Homo sapiens: one gene and its partners. The protein of the gene in region 1 interacts with the protein of each later gene in a pairwise test. Each region holds a gene or a part of one and is shown on either strand. Other genes may lie near its edges. The genes, in order: CHAT, GABPB1, MAOB and MNS1.

Region 1 (7,028 bases):
TCTGAAATTAATGTCAGGGTGGTTTTCTTAAAAATCTCTGTCTTAAAACAAAACAGATAATGGAAAAACCCAAAGTAACCATCTCTCTTCACCTACTGGAGCATGTAGGAGGGGAGGAGAGGGGAAAAGATGCAGAAAAAATGCAAATGGCAGGACCCCGGGAAGGGGCCAGGTCCTCTGCAAACCCACCGGCACCAGGCACCATCTGCTTGGGGCTGTGCAGTTTACTCATCTTGGACTGGCCCTGATGCCGCCTGCTAAGCAGAGAGTGGCAGCAACTCCAGGGCAGTCACAGATAAATTTTTTTTTCCTTTCAGAATAGCTGGACACAATTTTCTGAGCTCAACAGAAGGCTGCCCCTGGGCACGAAAGCAGAAATGTGTTTGTGGGCCCAAGTCACTATATTTTAAATGGACTTGGGCTCTGTGGTGTGTGTGGGAGGAGTGGGTGCTTGTAGGACTGTACGGCTCAGTGGAGACACTGGGAATGCCACGATAAGAATGCTCTGAATCTCAAAACACAGCCTCCTCTCCCCCAAAAAAGAAAAGAGGTAATGACCTGGAGTTAGCCTCTTCCTTCCTAACTCATTAGGTACGTTGCATGTAATAGAGTGACTCATCCTTTCCTTGGGCAGAAGCATCACCTGGACATACTAGGTCCTGCTAGGGAAGGAGACATGAACACTAAGCTTCCAAGGACCACAGAAGGAGTCCTTAGTGTGGTTCCCCAGTGCATCCAGGCTGCCTCTGAGCCAGGCAGGTCCCATTTCCCAGTGTGCAGGCCCAAAGCCACCTTGAAAATGATGATTCCCATGCATGAAGAGGGGACCCTTTCCTCCTAACACTCCGGCTCTGTGTGATGTCTCTGTATGGTCTGTGAGTTGGACCCTGAGGACAGGGAGCTGTGGAAAGCTGGGGTAAGGGACGGGAGTGGGGATCTGCAGGGTCTGGCTGTTCTAGAGGCTGGGTTTGGGAGGTGAAACCTAGTGGCAGGAGTCAAGGTTGGTGTCCCTGGCTGGGCCTCGTGGCTTTTTCCTTTGTTGCCAATGGCTTGCTCTCAGTAGGCGGCAGCAGACTGCAGAGGTCTCTCATGTCAATGAGGCTTTCTTCCACAGCTTTTGCAAACTTGCTAGAAGAAGTCTCTTTGCAGCTGTGAAAGCTAGAGATGCAGAAAAGGATGGTCTCTGGCTGGGGGTTGTAGCAGGCACCATACCCATTTGGGACCACAGGACCATAGCAGCAGAACATCTCCGTGGTTGTGGGCACCTGGAGGAGAGGACAGGTCAGGAGCTGCTTGTTCTGGAATGCAGCCCGCCAGCCTCGACTGGGCTTGGCTTCTCTGTTTTCCACCTGGGGGTTTGACTGAATTAACCAAATCAAGTGATTGCTTTAGCATGGATGGACACAGCCAGAGTCATAAAAACAGACCCATCTAACTGCATGATATCAGAGGATGAGGGGCCCCAAGCCCACTCCCTGGTGTGCAATCTGCTCTACTTGTGGAGTTGGAAGCTCCCGGAGTGACCTGGTGCTAGGTCTTGGGCTGAGTCTCCACTTCACCTGGGGGCCATTTGAGGCACGGAGGCAATCAGGTAATTTACTAAATGGTCCCCTGGTGGCACCCCATAGTTAGATGCTTTCCGGAGGGAGGAATTTATGAACTGGAGGAAATCTGGCCCATCCTCTGTGTCGATTTCCCCCAGATCCTTAATTACTGTCAGTATTGCCTGGCTTCTCTGATTTCTCCCTGCAGCCTGGCCATGCACAATTACCCAGAGTTGGGTGTTTCAAAGATTGCCATCAGTTTTACTTATGCACCTAGTATGTTTTGAATCAGAGTGCTGAGATTTTGTAATCCAGATCACAAACCAAGAAAGTATGTTTCTGAAAGCATTCAAGCCATAAATGCTGCTTTCCAGTTGGAAAACAACAAAACTCCCACACCCCAGATTAATTTTATTAGCTGGTCCTTGGGAAAAAAAATAGAAAGGATTCTTGGGCAGGTGCAGGGCCTGGTTTGTTTTAAACCTACAGGTTTCTGGTGCTGTGTGCTGAGGCCTTTGGAAGTGACACTGGCTGTTTTAATGGGGCAGAACAAACCATTAGTCTTGCTAATAGAGTCACCACATTGTCAGATAAATTTGCCGTGCAATAGCCGAAGGCCATAAAGCCATTCCAAAGCACTTTTTGCCCATGGATGATTTCCTGAGAAATTTATGGTGCTGTGTTCTGTCCTCGTTTATTCACGTCTGCATGCTCACTGCCATAATGACAACATCCCATTACTGAGTGGGCTTCTGTCCTCAAACACAGCTTATCAACTCCAGTACTGCCCATCCAGCCTTTCGCAGATGAGGTGGCATTTTAGTAAATTGATGGCTGTGGGGCATTTCCCCTCCTAAACCACGACCTCTCTCTAATGGATTGCATTCTGTCTTTGTGGCAGTGGCTCTCATACAGGACACGCTGAGGCACTGGTTAGATGTTGGGCTGGCCACGAATGTTCTGCTGTTGGTTGCGTGGCCCTTTATAATAATATCTGTGACCTATTTAGAGGGCCCTGTCCATGCCAGGCCCTGGGCTGGGCTTTCTCCCTACATAATTGTATCTGGCCAAGCCAAGACTTCACTGCAGACCTGCTGGGCATCAGAGCCCGTGGAAACCGCGGCAATAGATTGAAAGGTAGTAAGGTGTAATGGTTAGGGCACCAGAATGGGTATGTTCCTGTACTGTCTCCACCTCGGCTAAGTAGGGTCTGCTGATTACTCCCATTTAGGAGATGGGAAACCTTCTTCTTCCTTTTTTCTTTTTTTGAGACAGGGTCTCACTCTGTCACCTGGGCTGGAATGCAGTGGTGCAATCAGGGCTCACTGCAATCTCCACCTCCCCAGCTCAAGCAATCCTCTTATTTCAGCCTCTTTAGTAGCTGGGACTTCAGGCACGCACCACCATGCCCAGCTAATTTTTAAAAATAGGGAGATGAGGTCTCCCCATGTTGCCCAGGCTGGTCTCAAACTCCTGGGCTGGAGCAATCCTCCTGCCTCAGCCTCCCAAGGTGTTGGGATTATAGTTGTAAGCCACCAAGCCTGGTCAGTAAACCATCTTCTAATGAACATTCAGATCATTTTGCTGAAGATCACATAGTTCAGAAAAAGCAGAGGCAGGATTTGCCTGATTCCAGCTAGTGGGCTTGTTGTCACTGCTCTTTAGAAAGCTTACTGACTACACTACTCTTGGGCGATAGCTGCACGGGGCCGTACCTGGCTAGTGGAGAGGACAAACCGGTTGCTCATCAGGTAGGTTTCATCCATGAACATCTCGGGCAGCTCCTTGCACATGGCCCGGGCCAGCTCCCGCAGTGCCAGCAGGTGGTTGTCAATGGCCATCCCTGTTATGGCCTGTGTAGTTGGGGACAAAGAACAGGAGATGAGAAGTGGGCCTCCTGCACCTCCTTGTTCCCTGCTCTGTAGTCTACAGGACTGCTGGTGACTCCAGCAGCCACGGCTCATGCTTACCCAGTGCCTGCTGCCAACAATGTGTATGAGTGGCTGCTCAGGACTGACCGCTCTACCATGCGGCCTCTGCTCCCGGGCCCTTGCGCATTTCCACATGCACTGAATGAGTCCAGAGCAGGTTGGGTTCTAGCTTGAGACATCTGAGCTAAAGGTTAGTGAGTCTGAGCATCCCCTACACAACTATATCCGCCTGGTTCTCTAAGTGGAAAGAATGGGGCTGGCCTGGTCTTCTCAACTACCAACTGCTTGGGCAGGGAGAGAGTTTGGGAAGAAGGCTGTGTGCAGAGCTTGGAGACTACCGGATCCTGTGCAAGCATTGTGAAGGGCGTCCCAGGCTGTCCTGAACAGACTCCCACCACAACCAGCGCTGTCTCCTCCAGTAGGAGCCCAGGGAACAAGAGATAGAGGATAGAGGGTGTGAGATCTGTTACTGAATCTTGGCTGCTATTTCATGGCTCAGGATCAATTCATTTAAACTGGATCCATAATCTAAGAAATCGTTTTGAGACAGGAACTAGACCCCTTAGCAGGCTCAACTGACATTTTCAAGGGGAAAGAGCCTGTTGAATAATAAAAGTTCTTTTTCTTTTTATCACAAGATATTTAAACTTTTATCAAAGGATAGAAATATAGAGAAAGCTCCAGGATGTCAATGTAGGAGGGGTTCACGGAGGGTGAGGTGTCTGGAAGTGGGGCCGGGTACTCATTCTACAGCTCCCCCACTTGAGGCTGGGTATGTAGTATGCACACTGGTTTTTTGGACTGCATGTTTATTTGGAGCAATTCTAGGGGCTGATGGAGACTCAGGGGGCCACCCTGACCCATAGTAATCACTTTTGGGTCAACATCAGGGTAACTGTGAGTAACTCTTGGGGTTTCACAGTTCTGTAGGATGGCCAGTTAGCTGTCAAAGCCCTGCACAGGAGGAAACTTCCCATTCACAATGAACTTGGTATAGGTTTACAAGGCACGTTTAGGGATTTGACAGCTGTTCTCTTTCAGTTGCGAATGAATGCATAAAGATGACTCAGGCTCTGGTCTCTCTGAACGCACCTAATTAGAGGCTGAAAAGACAAACATTACACAACCACAGCTCACTTTAGACGTGCCCTACCTGTTAGGACCGAAGGAAAGAACGGTGAGCCCATCTATGAAGGAGACTACTCTTTTAATTTCTCTGGTTTCCTCTATTTAATTCCTGATTTGTGTTGGTCCATAGAAGCAGCTTCCCTGTGAACAGTCAACTCACCCCTCTTTTCACCACCTTGGAATAACTGTAGCAAGAGAGACTGAGTTCACAGGTTGTTTGGCTCAGAGCCATGAGTAATAACGAGTAAAATGACTTATAATTCAGTCTTTCATTCATTCATTTAGGGAATCTTAATTGAGTGCCTACTATATGCCTGGTGCCGCGGGTCCTGTAGCCACAACAGAGAACAAGACAGTTGTAGACTCAGTCCTTGTGGAGCTTATGGTGTAGTGGGGGACAGATTTCATCAACCATGCAAAAAAACATGATCATAAACTCAAGTGTGAGGAAGGGAAAACATAGAAGTGGGAGAGTAAGTGATGGGGGCTCTGGACCACCTTGCCATTGGAACTTTATTTCTCCACGACCACTGGCAAATATGCTTACCAGTTATTAGGTTTCCTTGCTTCTTTCCCCCTTTCCTTACCCTCCATGTCCAACCACACACCAGATTCACATCCTAAGCATCTTTGTATCTCTCCTTTCCCCAAACCCATCTCTTTGATTTGGTTGTTCTCATCAACTTAAAATTATTAACACAACCCTATGGCAATGCTTTGGAGGGTGTTTTCCTAGACATTTTAATAAATTTAAAGTTGTTATTGTCATATATTTATATCGTTTAGAAATCCAAATAAACCAAAAGCCTAGGTCATTTTGCCAGCACGGATTCCTACCCCACAAAGGTAATTCCTTACAGTCTTTTAGCTATTTCTTTTGGGTATATACTTTCTTTCCTCCAAACATATGCTTAGGTTACCACTACTGAATTTCTCAGTTTTACCTATAATCTTCTTGTTATAGACAGTGAAATTTCAGCTCTTTTTTTTTTTTTCTGAGATGGAGTCTCACTCTGTCGTCTAGGCTGGAGTGCAGTGGCGCGATCTCAGCTCACTGCAACCTCTGCCTCCTGGGTTCATGCCATTCTCCTGCCTCAGCTTTCTGAGTAGCTGGGACTACGGGCACCCCGCCACCACACCTGGCTAATTGTTTTGTATTTTTAATAGAGATGGGGTTTCACCGTGTCAGCCAGGATGGTCTCGATCTCCTGACCTTGTGATCCACCTGCCTCAGCCTCCCAAAGTGCTGGGATTACAGGCGTGAGCCACTGCACCCGGCCAATTTCAGCTCTTTTATGACCCTGCTCCCCCAGCACACTTCTACTCTCCCATCTTCCCAATAAGATTATGTTTTAACTCTTTGTAGTTTGATCAAGATACAGCATAATCATGTATACAGAACGATATACATAAGTATAATTAAGCAAGTATTCACAGCTGGGTCATGTAGTGTACTATGATTAGATTTCCTTTCTTATTGAATTTTTTGTTTTCCCTAGAATTGACAATGTATAAATTACTTTTTTACTTCCTTAGCTTTCCATGTATCTATTTTATTTATTTATTTATTTACTTTTGAGATGGAGTTTTGCTCTTTCACCCAGGCTGGAGTGAAGTGGCGTGATCTCGGCTGACTGCAACTTCCACCCCCTGGGTTCATGTGATTCTCCTGCCTCAGCCTCCTTAGTAGCTGGGATTACAGGTATGTGCCACCACACCTGGCTATTTTTTGTATTTTTAGTAGAGATGGGGTTTTGCCATGTTGGCCAGGCTGGTCTTGAATTCCTGACCTCAGGTGATCCACCCACCTCGGCCTCCCAAGGTGCTAGGATTACAGGCATGAGCCACTGTGCCAGGCCCCATGTATCTGTTTCTAACTGATTCCTAAACATGCAGCAAGAATTTCATTTGTCCTCTCACTTCTTGCTTCTTTATGGACTGATTGCTCTCTAGGTGTACTCAACAACTGTTGATTTGTGATCTCCTTTTACTGTCATCCTGCGGGCACCCCTCTATCTTTTTCTTGTGTTAAATCTTCTGTTTTTTTTCAGCCTATGATTTCCTCTTTTATGTTTTATTTTCTCACTTTAGAAGTCTACATTCTCCAGTAGCTTTATGAGAAATGGTGCTTAATAAGTAAAATGTTTGAGACTTTCTCTGTCTAAAAATATCTTTGATGCATCTTCAAACTTGATGACAGTTTAGCTGGGTATGAAATGTGTGTTGAAGGTCACTTTCTCTCAGAATTTGAAGACACTACTCTTTTTATCTTCCACCTTCCAATGATGCTGTTCAGAAATTAATTACATCTTTTTTATGGATCTTTGTATTTGATTTTTTTATCCTCTGATAGATTTTAGAATCTTCTCTTCATGTTTAGTGTTGTGAAATTTCCTTTGCTATGAGTATTTTCCATCTATTAAGC
Region 2 (7,028 bases), on another chromosome or scaffold:
AGGAGAGAACATTAAAAAGCCTCAGTGGAAATAGTAACACATATATACTAGCTGAAAAGAGTCAGGATGAAGCCAATATTATTGACAAAAAAGATGTCCTCTGAAGCGACAATCTGAATTATGCTATTCCAAAACTGCGTAAGTTAGGAAAGTAGTAGTAAAAGAACTCAGGAGTTGACTAGCCTGGCCAACACAGTGAGACCTTGTCTCTACCAGGAAAATACAAAAATTAGCCAGGCATGGTGACACATGCGTGTAGTCCCAGCTACTCGGGAAACTGAGGTAGGAGGATCACCTGAGCCTGGGGAGGTCAAGGCTGCAGTGAGCTGCAATTGTACTCCAGCCTGGGCAACACAGTGAGACCCTGTCTTCGAAAAAAAAGTAAAAACTCACGGCAGCAATTGTAATTCAATTCTTAAAATTTTTGAAATGAAGAGAAATGCAGCAGATAGCTAGAAAGAACAGTAGCAGCAGTTCATCAAAATTGATTTTTTTTCCTCCCAAAGTACAGATGTCTGTACATTTTTTTTTGTTTTTTTTTTAGATGGAGTCTCGCTCTGTCGCCTAGTCTGGAGTGCAGTGGTGCGATCTCGGCTCACTGCAAGCTCCGCCTCCCGGGTACACGCCATTCTCCTGCCTCAGCCTCCCGAGTAGCTGGAACTACAGGCGCTCGCCACCACGCCCAGCTAATTTTTTTTATTTTTAGTAGAGACGGGGTTTCACTGTGTTAGCCAGGATCGTCTCGATCTCCTGACCTCGTGATCCACCCGCCCTGGCCTCCCAAAGTGCTGGGTTTACAGGCATGAGCCACCACGCCCGGTGAGAAGTCTGTACATATTTTAAGGTAGGGAAGAAAAAACATTGCAAATAACAATCAAAGTGACCAGAGAGGTAAAGTTAACTGTGGCAGCAGGATTCTTCTTCCGTTCAATTTACAAAATAAGATGAAAGAACAGTGATTTGTCATGGTTACAATGAAAAAAAAATGTGCAAGCTTGTACCCTGTTTTCCTTTTTCACTTATATAGAAGTAAATGGCATCTATTAAGAGTTAAAGAGGAAGAAGGAATATGAGACAACAGAAAAATGCAATTAATAAGATGATTGCCAAGAAGTAGGAGGGGCCTATTTGGAATTGTTCAGCGTAAATTTATAGTGGCCAAGAAATCTTCATAATTACTCACCTTCCTCCACAAATATGCTGTGACCTGTGAGGGAAAACAGAAGAAATCGATGGTGGAAAAATCTGACAACAGGAGTCCAGTAAAATATAAAATAAGTGATTGATGTCAAAGTGCAGACTGTATCTAGTGCATACAGGAGTTAAGCTAAACGTCTCAGACTGTTTGGGTTGCTGTAACAAAATACCATAAACTGGGTAGCTTACAAACAACAGAAAGTTTTTTTTTTTTTTTTTTTGTAGAGATGGGAGTCTCACTATGGTGCCAAGGCTGGTAGTGAACCACCTCACCCAGCCCAGGAGGCTGAGAAGTCCAAAATAAGGCACTGGCAGATTCAGTATCTGGTAAGGGCCAGCTTCTAGACATCTGTCTTTTTGCTGTAACCTCATGTGGAAGAAAGAGCTAACAAGCTGTCTGGAGTCTTTTTTTTTTTTTTTGAGACAGAGTCTCACTCTGTCGCCCAGGCTGGAGTGCAGTGGCGCCATCTCGGCTCACTGCAACCTCCGCCCCCCCCAGGTTCAAGCGATTCTCCTGCCTCCACCTCCTGAGTAGCTGGGATTACAGGCACCTGCCACTGTGCCCGGCTAATTTTTGTATTTTTAGTAGAGATGGGGTTTCACCATCTTGGCCAAACTGGTCTTGTACTCCTGACCTCCTGATCCACCCACCTCAGCCTCCCAAAGTGCTGGGATTACAAGCATGACCCACTGCACCCGGTCTGGAGTCTCTTTTTTAAGAGCACTAATCCCACTCCTGAGGGCTCTACCCACCTGAGCTAATCACCTCCCAAAGGCCCCATCTCCTAATGCCATCATCTTGGAGGTTAAGATTTCAACATGAATTATGGGGAGACACAAGCTTTTAGACCATAGCACTTAGGGCAAGAAACTGAGGGTCACTATGAATGGAACAAGTAAAGGAACACAGGAAGAATAATCACATTGGCAAAGATCACAGAGTTCACACAAGTCATTTAGGGCACAAAGGAAATTTTTTAGATCATTCACTTACACACCATACAAATTTTTTTTATTTTTTATTATTAAAAATAATAATAAATATGGAACACATCATAAATTTATGTGTCATCCTTGTGCAGGGACCATGAAAATCTTCTCTGCATCGTTCCAATTTTAGTATATGTGCTGCTGAAGCAAGCACTATACTACTAATTATTTTTTCCTCTGTTTGGATACATGGGAAGTGCTGTGGAAATAAAGGATTCCAGGAGTCAGAAGGGGCTATACATCCAAAACCGTTATCATAATGAGAAGAATTGACCTAATTCCAAAGTTCAGTACTGTAATTTTACAACCACCTCAGTCTCTACATGCACAGAATGGGTGCATTAAAGACAGGTATCACAGTGTCATCTACCCACCTCCTTTAAAGAATCACTACTATAGGCTGGGCGCAGTGGCTTATACCTGTAATCTCAGCACTTTGGGAGGCCAAGGTGGGCAGATCACTTGAAGTCAGAAGTTGGAGACCAGCCTAGCCAACATGGCTAAACCCCGTCTCTACTAAAAATACAAAAATTAGCTGGGCATGGTGGCGGGCACCTGTAACTGCAGCTACTTGGGAGAATCACTTGAACCCGGGAGGCAGAGGTTACAGTGAGCCTAGATCACACCACTGCACTCCAGCCTGGGTGACAGAGTGAAACTCCATCTGGAAAAAAAAAAAAAGAATCACTACTATAGTAAACCACCATAGTAAAAGTATCTTATCCCTCAAGTGTAATGAGACATAAACAAGCTAATTGGGTTATAGGAATGCTCAAGCCTCTTTCAGAAAAAGATTCTACATTATGTAATATAATCACAGCATTAGTGGGTTTAAGATATTCTTTAAAATAGAATCACAGTCAGGACCAACAGGAGTAGTTTTTTAAATTTTTTTTGGAGACAGAATCTTGCTCTGTCACCCAGGCTGCAGTACAGTGGCACAATCTCCGCTCACTACAACCTCCGCCTCCCAGACTAAAGGAATACTCCCACCTCGGCCTCCCGAGTAGCCGAGACACAAGCACACACCACGTCTGGCTAATTTTTGTATTTTTAGTAGGGACGGCGTTTCACCATGTTGGCCAGGCTGGTCTCGAATTCTTGACCTCAAGTGATCCGCCCGCCTCGGCCTCCCAAAGTGCTGGGATTACAGGCATGAGACACTGAGCCCGGCCATTTTTTTTTTTTTAAACTTTGAAACTTTTTGGCTGGGCACAGTGGCTCACACCTGTAATTGCTGCACTTTGGGAGGCCGAGGCAGGCAGATCACAAGGTCAAGAGATCAAGACCATCCTGACCAACATGGTGAAACCACGTTTCTACTAAAAATGCAAAAATTAGCTGGGCGTCGTGGCGCGCACCTGTAGTCCCAGCTACTCGGGAGGCTGAGGCAGAAGAATCGCTTGAACCCAGGAGGCGCAGATTGCACTGAGCTAAGATCGTGCCACTGCATTCCAGCTTGGCGACAGAGTGAGACTCCATCTCAAAAAAAAAATTTTTTTTAAATCATAGTATCAGTATGCTGAGTATTTTTTAAATCAAAGGAGATGGAGGTGGACATTTTCCATTATTTCATTTTAATTGACTTTAATTTACCATGCACTATAAAACTATAAAATACCATGAAAAGATGTTTTAATATTATAAAATAGGACTCAAAATTAATATTTTATAGGTTCCTTATCTTCAATTCCAAAAATCCAAAAAACTTCTGAAACCCAAAATAACTCATCTTGTGGTAAACCTTACCCAAACTGATATGAAGCTATTTACAGTCTTTATCCTATTTAGTGCGAACATTCATACATTTTGTTGCAGAAACAGTAACACTTTTGAAGGGGGATATTGCACTGGACTCTATTGGAAGGCTACACATTACTACCTTGCCCATATAAAAAAAAAATTCCTAATTCCATAACCTATTAGACCCTAAGAGTTTGAATGGTGGACTGTGATCCTATAATTGCTAACATTTATTGAGCTATTAACTGTTATGTTTCAGGTACTGTTCTGTTCACTTTATATGAAATAACATTTAATCTTTCCAATCATCATGAGCTAAGTATTATAATAATCCACATTTTACAAAGAAGGAAACTGAGCCACGGAGAGATTAAGTAAACTGCCTAAAATCACACAGCTAGAGTATGACTAACTGGGATGACACTGGGATGAATATTTAAAATATTACACATAAGAGTAACAACACACAACAAAATAATTGATTATGGTAGGGTGGTAGGAGTGATATGTTTCTCTACTCAATTGATATTACTTCTAGAATAAGGAATCAAACAAAAAATTACAAAACACTACATGCATTTACAAATTCTCATGTACAATTTCTACAAACTTGCTTAAAATGCAGAGTATAAAACCCAAATTTCTCAGCTTATGCTAACACATTTAATTTTTTATTGAAAAGTTACATCTTAATATCTTAATTACAACATGATAGATAATTTATATTCATTGTAGAAGTTAGAAAATTTGGATAAGCAAAAAGAAAACAATCACCTGTAAAACTACACTCAGAAATAACCATTTAACAATTTGGCACATATCCTTCCAGACATAATATATTTTTGGGTTTTTTTACCAAAATGGAATCATGTTTTTAAATTTATTTTTTCTCACTTACATATACCAAGACATCCTTTCATGTCTTTATATTATTCTATCATCATTTTCATGGCTGAGAAGGCAGTACCCCACTGTAGGGATGGACCCTAACAATCACTGTGAAACATTTAGGTTGTTTACAATTTTACCATATAATGATCAATAGTACTGGCTCTAGAGTCACACTGGTTGGATTCAAGTCCTGGCCCTAACACTTAACTAACTCAGGTACCTTGAGCAAGCAACCTCATTTCTCTATGCCTGTTTTTTCTTCTGAAAAGCAGAAATAGTACTACCCACTTCATATGATTACCGTGGGGCTTAAAGGCATTAATACACAGCTTTTATAATCAACAATACTGCATCTAGTATGCTCACAATTAAATATTCACACACATCTTTACTACATCAAAAAAAAAATTCTTTAAAGGGAATTTCCATGTCAGAAGGTATGCCAATTTTTAAAGCTGCTGAATCTACCAAATTACAGTGTGGTTTAAAGCCCTTCATTAAATAGCCTTCTCACTTAATACTCATTTCTCTTTATCCAGGAAGGCAAAAACTATTATCAAGTTAACCAGTTTGTTTCACTCAATTAGCTTTTTGTTCTTCCACCTGTAAACCTCGGCATATTTAATAAAACCTCAAAGTTTATAGGTAACTTGAAGACACCTAGCTCAAATTCTCCTTCAGTACGATTCCTCTACTCTAGAATCCCCAATTTGTCAGTGAACAGGAACAGCCTACCACCCAAAACAACTCATTCTATTTTCACAATTTTGAGGAAATTTATCTTGAAAGAGAATTGAAATCTGCTTCTTTTAAACTTCCACCCACTGACCCTAGTTCCTTCTGGTCAAGTCAAATCTGATCCTTCTGCATGACAGAACTCCAAATCCTTAAAAGTGGCTGTTACTTCTTAAAAGAAGCTCCTCTTCTTTAGGTCAAACATCCCATTTTTTCAACTTTTTCTCATTTCCATTTCTCTCATGATCAAGGTCCTCGTTTATGCTCTACAGATAAGTGATTTTGACACTTAGGTGTCTACCACCTTGGAAATGAGAAAAATTAAGGTCCGTTCCTACCCTACTTAAGTTTGGGCCTCTGTGTGGCTTTTTATTAGCTCTCCAGATGATTCTGATAAAGTCTGAGAATGAATACAAGGTCTCACTTATGATAGTATGCTACCCAAAAAGCCAACACAATACCCCAAATATAATATAACTAGTACACAGTAAAGTGGGGCTAACACCTTGCTCTGTCAATAAGCTGTTCTACCAACTTCAGAATTATTCACAGATGGGTGTGTTGGCTGACGCCTATAATCCCAACACTTGGGAGGCCAAGGTGGGAGGATCACTTGAGTCCAGAAGTTTGAGACCAGCCTGGGCAACACAGTGAGATCTCGTCTCTACAAAAAATTAAAAAATTAGCCAGACATGTTGGCAGGTACCTGTAGTCCCAACTACTCAGGAGGCTGAGGCAGAGGCAGGATCGCTCGAGCCTGAAAGGTGGAGCTTGCAGTGAAGTATAATCGCACCACTGCACTAAGCCTGGGTAACAGAGAAAGCAAGACCCTGTCAAAGAAAGAAGAGGTGCAAAGGGGAAAACAGGGAGGGAAGGAGAGAGAGGGAGAGGGACAGAGGGAGAAGGAGAGAGGAAAGAGGGAGGGAGGGAGGGAGGGAGGGAGGGAGACAGAAAGGTGCACTAGCCCACCAACTGAACTGACAGCTGATTGCACCAAAGCATCTTCTTTGTATAGAGCACTGTGATGTCAACACTGAGAAAAAACACAGGCCCTAATACTGATCTCATCTAGTGCTAGATTTACCTTCTAGAAAGCATGATGGAACAAACATCTTCAGAAAACTATAATACTAATTGTAGCTATCCCAATGTAGGCACATCAGAGCTATAGAAACATTGTGATTACTAGCTGGAAACCATACTAGTTGTTGGGGAGGAGAGGGGAGCAGAGGGATGACACTAAGGAAACTAAGTTGCTCTCAACTTCAAGATTTTGTGTGGGTTTGTTTTTCAACGTTTGCAAAGTCAGAAGAGATGGAGGCCATCAGTGAGTTCATCTGAACTCAGGCTACTTGCAAACAGAGACTGGGTAACTGCCTCGTGCACCCTCAAAAATAAATTCATGATGCAAAACTTCATGTAATTTCTGAATTTCTGAATTCCTCATGACGTGCACTTTACCTGTTACCTGT
Region 3 (7,028 bases), on another chromosome or scaffold:
AGGCTTCCTTATGTAGGCACAATTGATTAAATCATTGGCCTCTGGTGATCAATTCAACCTTCAGCCCCTTGCCCCATCCCCTCCCTGGAGGCTGGGGGTGGGGCTGAAAGTCCCAACCCTCTAGTCTTTCCATGGTCTTTCCTGTGACCAGCCCCATCCTGAAGCTACCTAGGGGCTGCCAGCCATCAATCATTGGCATCAAAGGACATCACTCTGGAGATTCTAAGAATTTTTAAAGTTGTATGCCAGGAAACTGGGATGAAGATCAAATATATATTTCACAATATCACAGTTACCTCATACATCTCATGGTTTAGGGTCTCCACAAGGACATTTTCTCTTGTCTGGTCAATGTAGATCACAGGCCTCTCCAGCTTCACTCGGTCTCCAAGGAGGTCCATTATCCGCTCACTCACTTGACCAGATCCGCCCACAAATTTCCTCTCCTGGAAAGAGAAAAGGAGGTGAAAGAGAAACGCAGGAATGGGCATAAATTGCTAAATTCTTAGTTGTCCTCACATATGTCTACTCTGAGATGTCTAACATTTCATTTTGCTGCAGTGAATAGTGGCTTTCACCATGGTTTTCTAAGTAGGAATTGCTGTCTTTGGACAAAGTTACAGGATTTCTAAGTTACTTTACAAGCTATGCTCTTGTAGATTCCCAGACTCCAACCTTAGCTGGACATCTTCAGAATGACCCCTGTATCCCACCTTTCTGGTCACCATCCCTGCTCTCTGTCCTATCTGCAGTCTTTTGCTTAGAGCTGGAACTGGTGAAGCTGTACCTAAAGCTCTTCCCTAGCTTGCCTGAGCAGACCTAAGCCTGCTTCCCCTTGCTTTGTGGCTCAAGCGCAGAACTTCCCTGCCTCCCACCATGTCCCCTTCCCCCAGGCCAGCCTACTCCCTGTTGCAGGCTGCCCATCTTATCCTGGGTCAGATGCCTGCTGCTTCTGTAGCCACCGAACTCATTTCACCTCACTGTACCCACCTGCCCTCAGCCTTGCTAAAACTTCCAAATGTTCTACCTGGCTATGCACACAGTTGACCTGGCTGCCTCCTCCTCAATTTTCAGTTAAGGTCAGAGAAGGAGAAGGAGAGGGAGAAAGAGAAAAGGAGGAGGAGAAAGAGGAGGGGGAGGAGGAGAAGAGAAAGAAAGAAGAGGAGGAGGGGGAGAGAGAAGAATGGAACATGACAACCAAGCAGATTATTTAAGAACTCCAATATGTTCCTACTGTGTCTAGCACAGTGCCTTATACAGTGCCGGGGCTCAAGAAATGGGCATTGAATGAATGAATAGATAAATGAATTCCATGAATAGTGTGTGTTTTAAATTGAAAATGCATTACTGAATTTCCTTTATAAGCTTTCCAAGAAGTGCTCAAGCTAAGCTTAATTCAGATGGTCTCCTACAAACTTACCAAATAATAATTGAGCGTATGGAAAATGGCCACAGTGCATAAAGAGAGACAAGCCTAGCTTTAAAATTACATTGGACACTGGGTTCTCACAGTGGGTACCTGACAACAGACTGCCTTACAAGAAACACTTTGAGCTGCCATGGTAATGCTCTAAAAGCCACAAGCCTGCTTCCCACTTCAGCAGTTCATGATTGAAGGATGATGATCTTTCATTTCAGTAGCAGTGTTTTTCCATTGGGACTGTGGAAGAATGGATGGGTACCTGTCCTCCATTTGTTGTCGAGATGATTCTTGTTGTGCCTCCACACTGCTTCACATACCACAGGAACCAGAGAGCAGAGACCTCATGGGTCTCTGCAGTGACACACAGGTTCACAAAGAGAGTGGCAAGCTGCTTTGCAGATCTGCACAGGAAGAAACAAGAGCAAACTTGGCAAACGCAGGAGAGCAGCTTCTTAATTCTCTAAAAATTATTTAAGTAACACATTTTCTTGGTTAAGTTTAAAACAATGTGGTAAGGTCAAAAAATTGTCACTAGAATCTAATATTACAAAACGTGACATCGGAGGTTTTTGAAATATCAGATTATTTTCCCTGTAAACAAAACACCTTACTCAGAATCAGCTTCTATTCCAGATTCTGTGCTTTCATGATTTCTCCTTACATTCCTGCTGCTCTTCCAGTGATCCCCATCTCAGTAAAAAGCACCATCATTTACTCAGTGGTAAAAACCAACACTCTAGAAATCAAACATTATTTCTCTCTTTCCATCAATCTTCCCCCATCCAATTCATTGGGAAGTCCCATTATCTCTCACCACATCACTCCACCTTCACCACAAATTTAGAATCCATCTCTTTCCAGGAGTACTGCAATTACTTCCTTCAGACTGGCCTCTCTGCCTCCATTCATCCTCACCTGGTATCTGTTCACCACACTCAAAGCCAGAGGCTTTTCCCTCCCTCCCTACCATGATGCTCTCTCTGAAGTATAAATCAAATCATGTCATTTTCTTGCTTAAAAAGTCTCCAGTGGTATCCTATTAAAACCAGAATAAGATTCAGATCTTACACCATGGCTTCCAGAGCCCTATGTGATCCAGCCCATGCCTACCTTTTCTGTCTCATCTTGTACCCTCTTCTTTTTACTCTAATGTTTCCTTAGAAAGACATATTCACATTTGTCTATGAAAACGACCACTGGCTTCCATATTCCCAGCATCCTGACATTCTCTATCATTTTGCTACTGTATAGTATCTTTATAACTCTTTTCACTGTCTGAAATTGTCTTGATTATTGGTTAATTCTTTTTAATTGCTGTCTCCCCCCACTAGAATATCAACCTATGAGAACAAGGATCTTCTGTTTCTCACTCACCATAGTGTCCCCTTTAACAAAATAGTGCTTGGAACATTGTAAGCACTCAATAATTACTTGTTGCATGATTGAACGAATGAATGATTGATGAGAAATATCAGTTAAACAAAATTTTTTAAACATCCATAACATGCAAAGGATATGCTAGGTGCTGTACCAAACACAAAATTAGTCACAGTTATCTATTCAGTTATTTTACTGCCTAACAGAAGACAAGCTCAAATAATGGATGAGGGGACAAACAATTAATAGAGCATAAATGGGTAAGCTTTTGCTTGACATTGGCAGGTAAATGGTGAGAGGTTATCACCTATCAGGAAGCACACCAGAAAGCAAACTATCTCATGCAATTTCGAGGACTCCATTATATCTAGCACAGCATAAAATTCATCAGTAGTAGTGTGCACTCTGGGATTTCTTTAATAAGGTCCAATTCCCCTTTTGACTTTGACATGAAGTTTGCATATTGTTAATCTTGTTATATCTGAGGCAGCATTTTCCACCTGGTAATGCTGACAATGGTTGGGATAAATGATATTGTCTTCCATTTATTGAACTCTTTCCACACTCCATTGTCTTTAAAATCATTATCTTGTTAAATTGTTGCAACAACCGTATCAAATATCTATTATTTTTCCACAGTTCACATGCTAGAAAACGGAGTCTCGGACAGTTTAGGAATATATAACGACACAACTTCAAGTCAGATCGTACTTGACGCAAAACTCGTGCTTTTGATACCTCAAAATGTTTTCTAATTAGTCAGCTGACAGCCTTGGAAGTGCAGCTACTCACCAAGGGGCATCTCTCTACTTTACTGTATCTTGACCCTAGAAGTTTGTAGAATCATGCCTAACACACATACCAATTATTGACATTATTTGCAGCTGTAACAACCTGACAGCCCGTCTATGACAGTCCCCATCATTACAGCCTGTGAAATGGTGTCATATATACATTAAAGCGACTTACAGTTAGTTTTGTAAGATTTCTCAGGATAATTGAAGGGATGGAAATTGCTAGCTCATGCCTTCCTTGCAGAGGCAATTTGTAATATCTAACTAAAACACATATCCAGACGTCAATTTAAAATAAAAGTAGTATTTTATTTGTTGCTTCCTAAAATCCTATTTCTTTTCTTCCTTATTTTTTAGGTGGATTGAGGGGCATACAGTAAAGGGAGTAATAAATAACTGAAACCTAACATTGGCCCAGCTGGAGAGCCAATATTTAACAAAAATATTGCTGGAATTCTAGTTGTTATTGTTGGCAATTTGGTGGGAAAGAAATAATTCTGGTTTGAAATAAAGGGAGATCTAAAAGTAATTCTGAAGGGCCAGTCCATTCCTAATCCTTTATTTGAATTTACTCTAGGAGCTTCAGTAAGAAAAGAAATAAGAACAATATTTGAAGGATGGAAGGTCAAGGAAGTTAGTGCAATATTTCCGTATTTTTTGCCCTGTTGACTTTTTAAAAGATAAATGTTATAATATTTTTCTACATGAAAAATACATACACATTATATAAAATTTGGAAAATTTATAAGATAAAAGGATGAGAGAACGAGTGTCTTCCATATTTCTGCCCCTCCAGAAGATAATTACTAGTCTCATTTTGATGCATTTTTTTCTAAGTATAGGTCTTTTAAAAAATGTTTTTACATAGCTGTGATCACATTGAAAATACAATTCATGTTTGTGAAGTGCACTTTGTAAATGATAATAACTGAAAGAATAATCAACATTAGTCTTGGAATGTATGATTGTGCTTTAGTTTGAACAACAATAGGTTGGATATTCTGGGGATTACTTCATTTAAATCCAGGAAATAATACTGTGTGTATCTTGCTTGGGAAGAGTTGGAAAATTGTCTTGTGTTCTTATACTCCTAGTATCTCAGAATGCTTTATTTTGTCAAATGACAACTTAGAATATTCACTAAGTGGAGGACTAGGCCAAGGGCTACGATAGAAAATGTCGGGTCCCTGTGATCCCAAAAACATATGATTGATTTTATCACCAAGAAACTTAAAAGTTCTCTGAGGAGAGAAGACCTAACTGAATTTATTAAAAGCTTTTCATAACAGGAGTTATAAAACAAATGCAGATAATTACATACTTATTATATTTTGAAAATCTAAAGTATATAATTTAAAACTAAATACTACAATTTTATTACTATTAAAATAAATTATATTGCAAACTACATTCTCATAGAGGTGTTAGATAGCATTAGGTAAATGTTTAAAAGAATATAATTAATAACACGCATTGATTTCATGACATAAAAGGATTTTACTATTCCAGAACTGGTTGCTTTCAAAGGTTGAAAACACAGGAGAGGCATAAAGATGTTTATTATAGAGTATTGTATAATGATAATAACAAAAAACAGAAAGTAACCAATGTGTTCAACAGGATGATAATGGACAAATACATTACGTATTCATTTCCCATGGAATATTCTGGTACCATGAAATATGATGTTTAAAGAATAATTTTTAATGATGTAAAGTTTTTAAACATTTTAAAAATAAATGTTTGCATGGTAATATTAAACGTTAAAAATACTTCAATGGATGTCCATTGCTTTTGCAGTGCATATATAAATAGTTGTTTTTAGAAATGAGATCATATACCATACCACAATAGCCTGCTTTTCTATGTGTTTAATATTACTATTTTTTCCAGTCATTAAATATTCCTCTACAACACGATTTTTTAAAACCCTCAAGTACTCAATTTTTTAGATGTTCCATACTTGATTCTGCCGATCTTCTACTATTGGGCTTTCAGATCCTCCCTTTTAAAAATAATGCTTTGAATCTGCCTCTTTCACTGTTTCTCCCTCTCCCTCTCTCCTTCTCTCCCTGTATGCCTCTCTCTTCTTTTTTTTTTTTATTATTATACTTTAAGTTTTAGGGTACATGTGCACATTGTGCAGGTTAGTTACATATGTATACATGTGCCATGCTGGTGCCTCTCTCTTCTTTTGCCTCACTTTCTTAAAGCTAAATTATTAGAAGCTGAATTTTTATATGAAAAATATATGAATTTTATGTCTTTTGATTATTTCCATTTTTAAGATTCAGATATTCTAAAAGCTTGTTTTTACTTTTAGTTGGCAGTGAATGAATGCCTAAAAATGAAGACATTAACCCCCGAGCCAAACATATTCTCAACTAATGCTCTTTAGCAAGACAGGGCAGTCTCCTTGAATTTGGCTTCCATTTCTCTTATTTTGTTTACCACAAATTTACCACGTGCTTGAATGGGAACCCTCATAATCCTTTCCATTTTCCCTGCTGTCCAAGAGCAGTGTGGCCTCTCCATGTGGTCTGTCTATACAAGCCTTCACAATTTCTCTACAGTTCCCAGTTCTGCCAACAAGAATTTAATGCTTAACTCATAGGTACTTGTTTTTTCACTAAAGGGGAACAGCCAGTCCAGTCACACATGTTTCCCCTGTAGTTGTGACCTATCTACACAAAGGCTTTAGAGGTTCCTCTTTAAGTCCTTGAAGAATTGCACTACTTCACACAAGGTGTGGCAAATGCACATGCTAACCATCTCCACATTTGACCACCAGTGAAGAATACAAAAATTGTCCTATATCAACAACTTAATAAATGAGAGCTTTAAGCTGATGGTCTTTAAGCTGTTTCAGATAAAGAAAGTGGTACCTTCTGGTCTGTTCTGAGGACTTCACAGGGTAATACCACCTTTGTGATACAAAACTACTCCAAAGAAGTAAGTTGTATGTACAGATATCTTCAGGGTAGGAGCCAATTCCAATGGTTTTCAGCATGCCACTGGCTGGTGGTGTGGTTTTAGACACAAAGCAGCTACTTGTCCCATACTTGTTGAACGGTATTGCTAAATAAACCTAAAAGGTGGTCACAGTAAATGCCTGTGCCTAATGGCAAGACTTACTCAGTCCAGCAGAGCTTGTCCAGTAGCTCCTTCATTGTCATGTTGTCCCACTCTTCTGCAAGGGGAGCCTTCCATGGGGCATCACTCGGAATCTACATTCAGATGAGGATTCGAAGGAGAAAGACAAATGTAATTTTCTCTTTTATTTTATTCATTTTTGTAATTTTCCACTTTAAATAACTATTCAAATAGTATTAAAAACTCTACCTTAAAGAGGAAAAATGTTAAGTTTTCCAAATTCATCCAATATTGCTTTTACTGCATAATCAATGCTGTCTATGTAGCTTTCCTATTATAAA
Region 4 (7,404 bases), on another chromosome or scaffold:
CTGCTGCTCAGGTTTTCCACAGTTTGCCTCTTCTGGGCTGGCCCCTCTGGCCCTCCAGACACACTTCTCTAGGTACATAGCTGATATGCCACAATTTAATTAGCCATTCCCTAAACACTGCATGTTTAGATCACCCATTTTTGTGGTGTTTTGTTTTTGTTTTTTTGCTAAATTAGAAAATTTTGCAATAAATAAAATCGTGCCTTTAGTCGTTTAAAATTTTTGGTCTGGTTAAGTTTTCACTAGAAAAATTGCCATAAATATATCAAATGTCATCAAATTTGGTACCTTTTTAAAGTTAAGAAATGAAAAAAATCCATATAAACATAGTTTACACATGTATATATCTCTATATAAATATAGGTATATATGTATACTTTTCTTTTTACCAATAAGAGCTTATATAATTCAGAAGGGGATTCCTCCACTCTTCATGATGAATTTAATATGGTCATCTTTACTTCACCGCTAGCCAAATTACAGTCTCTGTGCATCATATAACAAATTCCTAATGACATCACAAGTTATTTGACATCACAAATTCTGTATTCCATTCCTATATACATAATATGTAGATGCCAGTCTTCTATTTTACTACTCATTTACAAATAGTGGCTTTTCAATAAAATTACCCAGGTAAATTTTTATTCATATCTACAATGAATAAGCATTCTTTCTGTGTAGTGTTCTCAACCCTAGAAATCAATATATTACAATTCTGTAGTTCTTTCTCAGTGTTATGCTAGAATTCATGAAGTCAGCAATCTCCTATTCCTGTAGACATAGTGAAGATGCAAGAGCAAAAGTGAAAGTGAGAGACGAGGAACGAAAGACATCCACTAAGCCTGGGTTTCAGTGAGCTCACCAACCATTTCTTCATGTCTCTTTACCCCTAACAATTATTTAGCACTTGATCACATCATCACACAGTCCATATGATTCCCAGATTATGGTGGCTAAAATATCCAGAAACAGATTTTCTTGTCTTAATGAAACAATCAAATTCAATATATGGAAGTTAGCCTATTCTGCATCAACCAGAAAGTAGTCACTTCCTAACTGCATATGACAGACAGAAAAAGTACTAAAGGAAGTTATATACAATGAAACCATTAAATGCAGATTTGCCACAAGGCAAGATGGTAATACTTGAACATTATGAAGTGCAGAAACTGCACAAGCACATTATATTTTAAACACTTCATCTATTTAACAAACTATGTACCCTCTTCAGCTAAATAAGATGAATTGAGATTCAAGAGGCAGCACCATACTAGCAAATCTCATCCTAAAGGCATCCATTAATATAAATCAACAGCAGCAATTTGGTTTGATCACTTATTTGCAAGAATCATTAAGGTTTATTAGCATAATTGTTCCCTCTGGGATTTCATGTCGAGAAAATGAAGAATGGCATTATCAATATTTAAAAGATAAGTGTGTAATGTTCAGAGTATTTCAACAGTCATCTGCAGGTGGTGTCCAGCTGCAGCAAATTAGATTAGATTTGGGCATTTTTCTGAACGAAAGAAAAATTGTTTTGTTCTAATTGCTTTATTTTATAAAGCAATACCATTTCGTAAATAATTTTTACTGTATAGCTACACTTAACAGTGCACATCTATTAACATGCTTTATTTCAGATCAGCAACTCTGTTAAGTTCAACCCTGTTATATTGTAACTACTGGGGGACATTAATCAGTATAATTCATCATCCATTATAAGGAAAAGCTCCTTCCCCTCAGTACTCTAGACATTTTAGTCTAGACTTGTAGGTAAAAAGTTGTTTTCTAGAGGGAAATGAACGAGAAGACTTCCTTGTAATGTTGGGAAGGCATAAGTCCTCCCTTAACAATGAAGTATCATTTATGATAGTAATAATTTATTACTAGAAATAATATTTAAATGTAATAATTGTTTTTTAATAATGACATGCAATGGAATGTTATTTAGTGATAAAAATAAATGAGCTATCAAGTCACATAAAGATTTGCAGGAACCTTTAAATGAGTTTTGCTAAGGGAAAGATGCCGGTCTGAAAAGGCTACATACTGTATGATTCCAAAGATACGACATTCTGGAAAAGGCAAATCTATAGAAACAATAGAAAGATTAGTGGTTCCCAGGGGTTTGGGAGGAAGGAGTGAGGGAGAAATGAATAGGTAGAACACAGAGACTTTTTAGGCAGTGAAACTATTCTGTATGATACTGTAATAATAGATATATGACAATATGTCTCAATTTTCTGACCTCAAGCAACCTTCTTGCCTCAGTCTCCCAAGTAACTGGGATTACAGGTGCAAGCCACCACTCCTGGCCAGATACATGACATTATGTATTTCTCAAAACCCACCTGGGAGCAGTGGCTCATGCCTATACTCCCAGCACTTTGGGAGGCCAAGGTGGGTGTATGACTTGAGGTCAGGAGTTCAAGACCAGCCTGGCCAAACTGGTGAAACTCCGTCTCCACTAAAAATACAAAAATTTGCTTGTAGTCTCAGCTACTTGGGAGGCTGAGGCAGGAGAATCGCTTGAACCTGGGAGGTAGAGGTTGCAGTGAGCCGAGATCATGTCACTGCACTACAGACTGGGCAACATAGCCAGACTTCATCTCAGAAAAAAAACAAAACAAATCCTCATAGACCTGTACAAAACAAAGAGTGAACCCTAATGTCAATTACGAACTTAATCATATTAATATTGGTTCGTCAAGTGTAACAAATGTACTACACTAATATGTAATGCTAAAAATAGGGGAAATTGTATGGGTGCGGTGGGGAGGAGAGGTGAGACGGGGAATTCTCTGTATTCTGTCAATTTTTCTGTAAACCTAAAACTGCTTCGAAAAAGGAGCAAAGTCTATTAAAAATGTAGTAATTGTTAGGATAATTTTTTAAAGGTTAAAATCAGCTAATTGTTACAATTGATTAAATTTGTCTTGGATTTAGGTCAATATTCTGGCCAAAAATCTTTTTCTCAGATTACCTATGAAATTATATGAATCCTTCTACCATATCCAAGGGTATACTGGAAATGAGGAATTATAACTGAAGTTCCCTTTAGAGACGAAAGTCTTCATTTCGAGAAGTAAACAGTAAAAAACATACATGTTTGCTGAAATACTTTGCAATGTCACTATTTCACTATTAGGAATTAACAAATTAAACCCCACACTCTATTGAATGTGTTATACCCTGTTCAACCCTGAACCCATGCCTGTCTCCTGTCTCTTCTATACAGTGCCCAACCCTTTGCGGAGATGGATATGCCAAGAAGAGAAATTTATAGCAGGCTGCCTGCTTTGCTCCATTCCAGATCAATTTACACAGAACACCCAGAGGGCAGGTTTACGCCTTCTCTCCATTTCTCTCAAACAGTGATGGCAATGAGTGGAGTACTAGAGACAACATAGATATGCAACCACGGGATAAATGACCAAAGGACAGAGAGACGAGCGACCTCAGTTGTATGATGGAACCAAGAGAAGTCGCTGATTTTTAGTTGTTTTGATCTGGTTGTAAGGATGGGGTGACAACTTCCAAGCTTTTACACGTCAGCACTGAAACTGCAAGTCCCATTTGTTATTAATCTTTAAGCAGACATATTGCTACAGAAGACGGACTCCAAATTAGAATAACACAAAGTTATACCACTAATCACCTTATACAAATATTTTAGTGTTGACAAGATTTCTCTGAATGTATCATTTCTAAAATCAGTATATCTAATTTCTCTGATCCATTATCATTCTTAAACTTCCCATTTAAAATGGACTTTAGTGTCTAACCTGCCTATGGAATGAACCAGATCAACATCCTGCCATCATGTAACGTGCTCTCTCTTGGTACCTGGACCACATAGCAGAGTAAGATTCATGTGGCTCATAGATTTTAGTCCCAAAATTTACCAGCAGCTTCTGCGGGGGGGGGGGGGGGGCGGGGGGGTGAAGTGAAGGCTGCTGGAAGCTCGTGCTACCCTCAGTGCCTCACAACCCAGCAAAGGGGACAGCGACCTGGACTCCCATTGCTGAGGATTAAACCAGTCATCGTCCCTAGCAGAGACCTGGCTGACTAGGCACTTAGTGTGCGGGATGCTCCATGCGTGGAAATTTCCTTCGGCTCCATGCATTAGGCAGTAGTTTGCGTATTTCTCTGTGCGCAGTCTCCACAGTCCCGAACTTGGCTCCCAAACCCACTGAAACCACAGTTCGGCCGCTGGAGGGAAATCGAGCTTCCCTAGCCCACTGCAAAGTGCTTGGGTCAGGCCACAGTCTGAACTTCCCGCTTTTCTAGTTTAGACCTATAGAAGTAGCCCTCCTGCCCTGGTCCTAAGAAGCTCAATGCCGATTGTATCTTATCGCGTCCAATGGGAGGCCACGTTCTGCGTGGGTCACTTTTGGTCGAGCGGAGGGCGCGCAGCTCCACCGTTGCCAAGACGCCGCGTAAACACCCGAGCGCGCGCAGCCAGGTGCGCTCCTTGGGGCTGCTGGCTGCTGCGTTTGCGGCGGGAGGTGGTGGCCGCGGTCCCACGAGAGGGGGTATTTTTCGTCAGCCAAGATGGTGAGCCAGTTGGGGGACTTGAAACTACTTGTTTATTGTTGATTTAATTCTAGTTTGGCGCTCATCTGCTTCTAAAAAAGGATTTTAAGTGCTTAATCTGGTCATTAATTGGGGAACTTGTATTTGCTTTCGGAGGCTTCAGGTGCTATTAGAAGGGACGCTCGCGGTGGTTTCCAGCTTTTTTGGCACTTTTCGCATAGTGTATTAAATACATCTTTAAATCTGCCCAATAGAACCTCTGAAGAAATAAGTAGATATAAAAGTGTAGGAGAAAGCGAATTGATAAATAGCGGCGAATTGACCTATTACATTTATGTTAGGAAAATCTGACCAGCTTCTGAACAGCACTTTATGGCCCTGTGGTGGTAGTCGTGGTGGTGGTGGTGGTGGGTGGAATGAGGGGAGGAGAAATTCCCTGGTGGTAGTAAAGATCTGGGTCTGTAGGGTGCGATTAATCCTAGCACAGCTATTTATTAGCTGCAGAACCTTGGGTAAAGTTACTTTTCATGTTTCATCTATAAAATAGGTAATAATAACAGTACCTATTTAATCGATATGTGAACATATTTACCACGTTTACTTTTTATTCGGTATACTCCTTTGAATTTAGGAAGGAAGCCAGGCTCTTCGTATCCTTTCTTACTAAGGTTTATATCAATACATTTTTTAAAATTAGATTTTGGAATATCAAAATATGCATCTTTTTTTTTCTTCCATCGTAGGGTTCCAAAAGGAGAAATTTGAGCTGTAGTGAAAGGCATCAGAAATTAGTAGATGAAAACTACTGCAAAAAATTACATGTCCAAGCTCTAAAAAACGTCAACAGTCAAATCAGGAATCAAATGGTGCAGAATGAAAATGATAACCGTGTTCAGCGCAAGCAATTTCTCAGATTATTACAAAATGAACAATTTGAGTTGGATATGGAAGAGGCCATTCAAAAGGTAAGTTTTACTATTCATTGTTACTTTTTTTTTCATTTTGCACCTTGGAAACGATGAAAGTCAGCTGTTAATGCTGGAAATGAGTAGATAAACAACAGCAGCAGGTAAGTGATGCCTGATTGTGCCTCAGCTCGGTGTAATCGTAAAGACCTGGGTTTCTGGAGCCGGCCTGTCTTTGAATCCTACTACTGCTATACCTTAGCTACGGACCCTTGAGTAAGTTGCTTTTACTTTTTTTTTTTTTTGGATGGAGTCTTGCTCTGTCGCCCAGGTTGCAGTGCAGTGGCACGATCTTGGCTCACTGCAACCTCTGCCTCCGGGGTTCAAGCGATTCTTCTGCCTCAGCCTCCTGAATAGCTGGGACTATAGGCGCGCAACACCACGCCTGGCTAATTTTTTAATTTTTAGTAGAGACGGGGTTTCACCATATTGACCAGGCTGATCTCGAACTCCTAACCTCGTGATCCGCCCGCCTCGGCCTCCCAAAGTGCTGGGATTATAGGGGTGAGCCACCGCGCCCAGCCTGCTTTTATTTTTTATGCTTTTTCTATAAAATGGGGAATAAGAATAGTACCTCCTACTTAGGATTGTTTTAATAATGAGTTAATACATGCAAGACTCTTGGAATAGTGCCTGGTACAGAATAAGCACTCAGATTTTTTTTTAACATAAATATGAACTCTGTAATTACTACCAGTTTTGTTCATGTAAGTACAATTGTGTTGCCTTTCATAAATTTCTAAAAACAAAAATTTAGGGGTGCCTTTAAAAAATTTACTGAAATTAATGTATACATTATTAAGTGGTAGAAAATGAACCCTTAGGTATATCTCAACATTTTAAGGGATTAAGGTGGTAGAAAAGGGAAACTAATAAGAATTGAGACATGATAGAAGTGAATTCTCATAAATATATAAAAGGTATTCTGATATGTCAGTAGTTTTTGAGTAGCTGCTGTATGTTAAACATTTTGGAGGATTTTGTGGAGAATAACAAAAGCAAATTTAAAAAATGATATCCACCCTTCTGTGTTCCAAATTCAAAAGCTTAGATATGATTTTTTTTTTTAACTCTGAGAAAGCACATCTTAGGGGTTGGATATTTTTCCTATTCTTATTATTTTCTCTTTAATTTGAAAGAATATCCCAGGTATCACACCAACTCTTTCCTACATAGTTAAGTGTACATCTAACAAAATATGGATGTTTTCTTACATGGAGTACCATAATACTATTATCTCACCCATTCCATAAACACATTTCTGTGATTGTGTCAAAAATCTGCTTTTACAGTTGGTTTGTTTTAACCAAGATCCAAGGAACATTCATACGGTGTATTTGGTGGTTATGTCTGTTTAAGTCCCTCTTAATTGAAAACAGCCCCTCCTTCACCGTGTTTTTCTTTTTTGACTTCATGTTTTTAGCTTGCTAAACTAAGCCAGTTGTTTTATCCAGTAGCCCACATTCTGAATATACGTGTTTGCTTCCTCATGTTCCTTTAATTTATTTCCCTATCTGTTATATTTCCTCTAAATAGAACCTAGCCATAAAGACACAATTAGATTGCGGTCCACCTTTTTTGGCAAGAATACTCCATAGGTGATGCTGTCTTTGTCATTGTGTCACAACAGGGAACACATGAGGTCTGGTTGTTCCACTTTTAGTGATGCCAGTATTGATCAGTGGGTTTAGGAAGACAGTCTGGTTTCTCCACTGTAAAGGTTCCCATCAAACTTTCATCTGTGGTTTCACAAAAGAATTTTTTCTTTCATTAGTGGTTACAAAAACTGATTTTCTGATTCTTTTATTCCTTTCACATTTAATTAGCTGAAATTCCTCTGTAAAGAACTTCACCTTGGGCCAGCACAATTGCTCACCCATATAATTCTAGCACTTTGGGA

What was found.
Region 2: the proteins of CHAT (region 1) and GABPB1 interact in binary tests that used the Homo sapiens proteins (3 or more experiments, as listed by UniProt).
Region 3: the proteins of CHAT (region 1) and MAOB interact in binary tests that used the Homo sapiens proteins (3 or more experiments, as listed by UniProt).
Region 4: the proteins of CHAT (region 1) and MNS1 interact in binary tests that used the Homo sapiens proteins (3 or more experiments, as listed by UniProt).

What each region holds. Positions count from the first base shown.
Region 1 is NC_000010.11:49,659,014-49,666,041, reverse strand, and holds part of CHAT (choline O-acetyltransferase), read right to left. Parts: intron 3,398-7,028; coding exon 3,260-3,397; intron 1,266-3,259; coding exon 996-1,265; 3' UTR 1-995. UniProt on the Homo sapiens protein: Catalyzes the reversible synthesis of acetylcholine (ACh) from acetyl CoA and choline at cholinergic synapses.
Region 2 is NC_000015.10:50,345,189-50,352,216, forward strand, and holds part of GABPB1 (GA-binding protein subunit beta-1 isoform beta 2), read right to left. Parts: exon of another isoform or gene 3,748-7,028; intron 1,208-3,747; exon of another isoform or gene 1,184-1,207; intron 1-1,183.
Region 3 is NC_000023.11:43,795,443-43,802,470, forward strand, and holds part of MAOB (amine oxidase [flavin-containing] B), read right to left. Parts: intron 6,822-7,028; coding exon 6,730-6,821; intron 1,825-6,729; coding exon 1,683-1,824; intron 447-1,682; coding exon 297-446; intron 1-296.
Region 4 is NC_000015.10:56,462,126-56,469,529, reverse strand, and holds the start of MNS1 (meiosis-specific nuclear structural protein 1), read left to right. Parts: upstream 1-4,392; 5' UTR 4,393-4,557; coding exon 4,558-4,560; intron 4,561-5,282; coding exon 5,283-5,504; intron 5,505-7,404. UniProt on the Homo sapiens protein: Microtubule inner protein (MIP) part of the dynein-decorated doublet microtubules (DMTs) in cilia axoneme, which is required for motile cilia beating.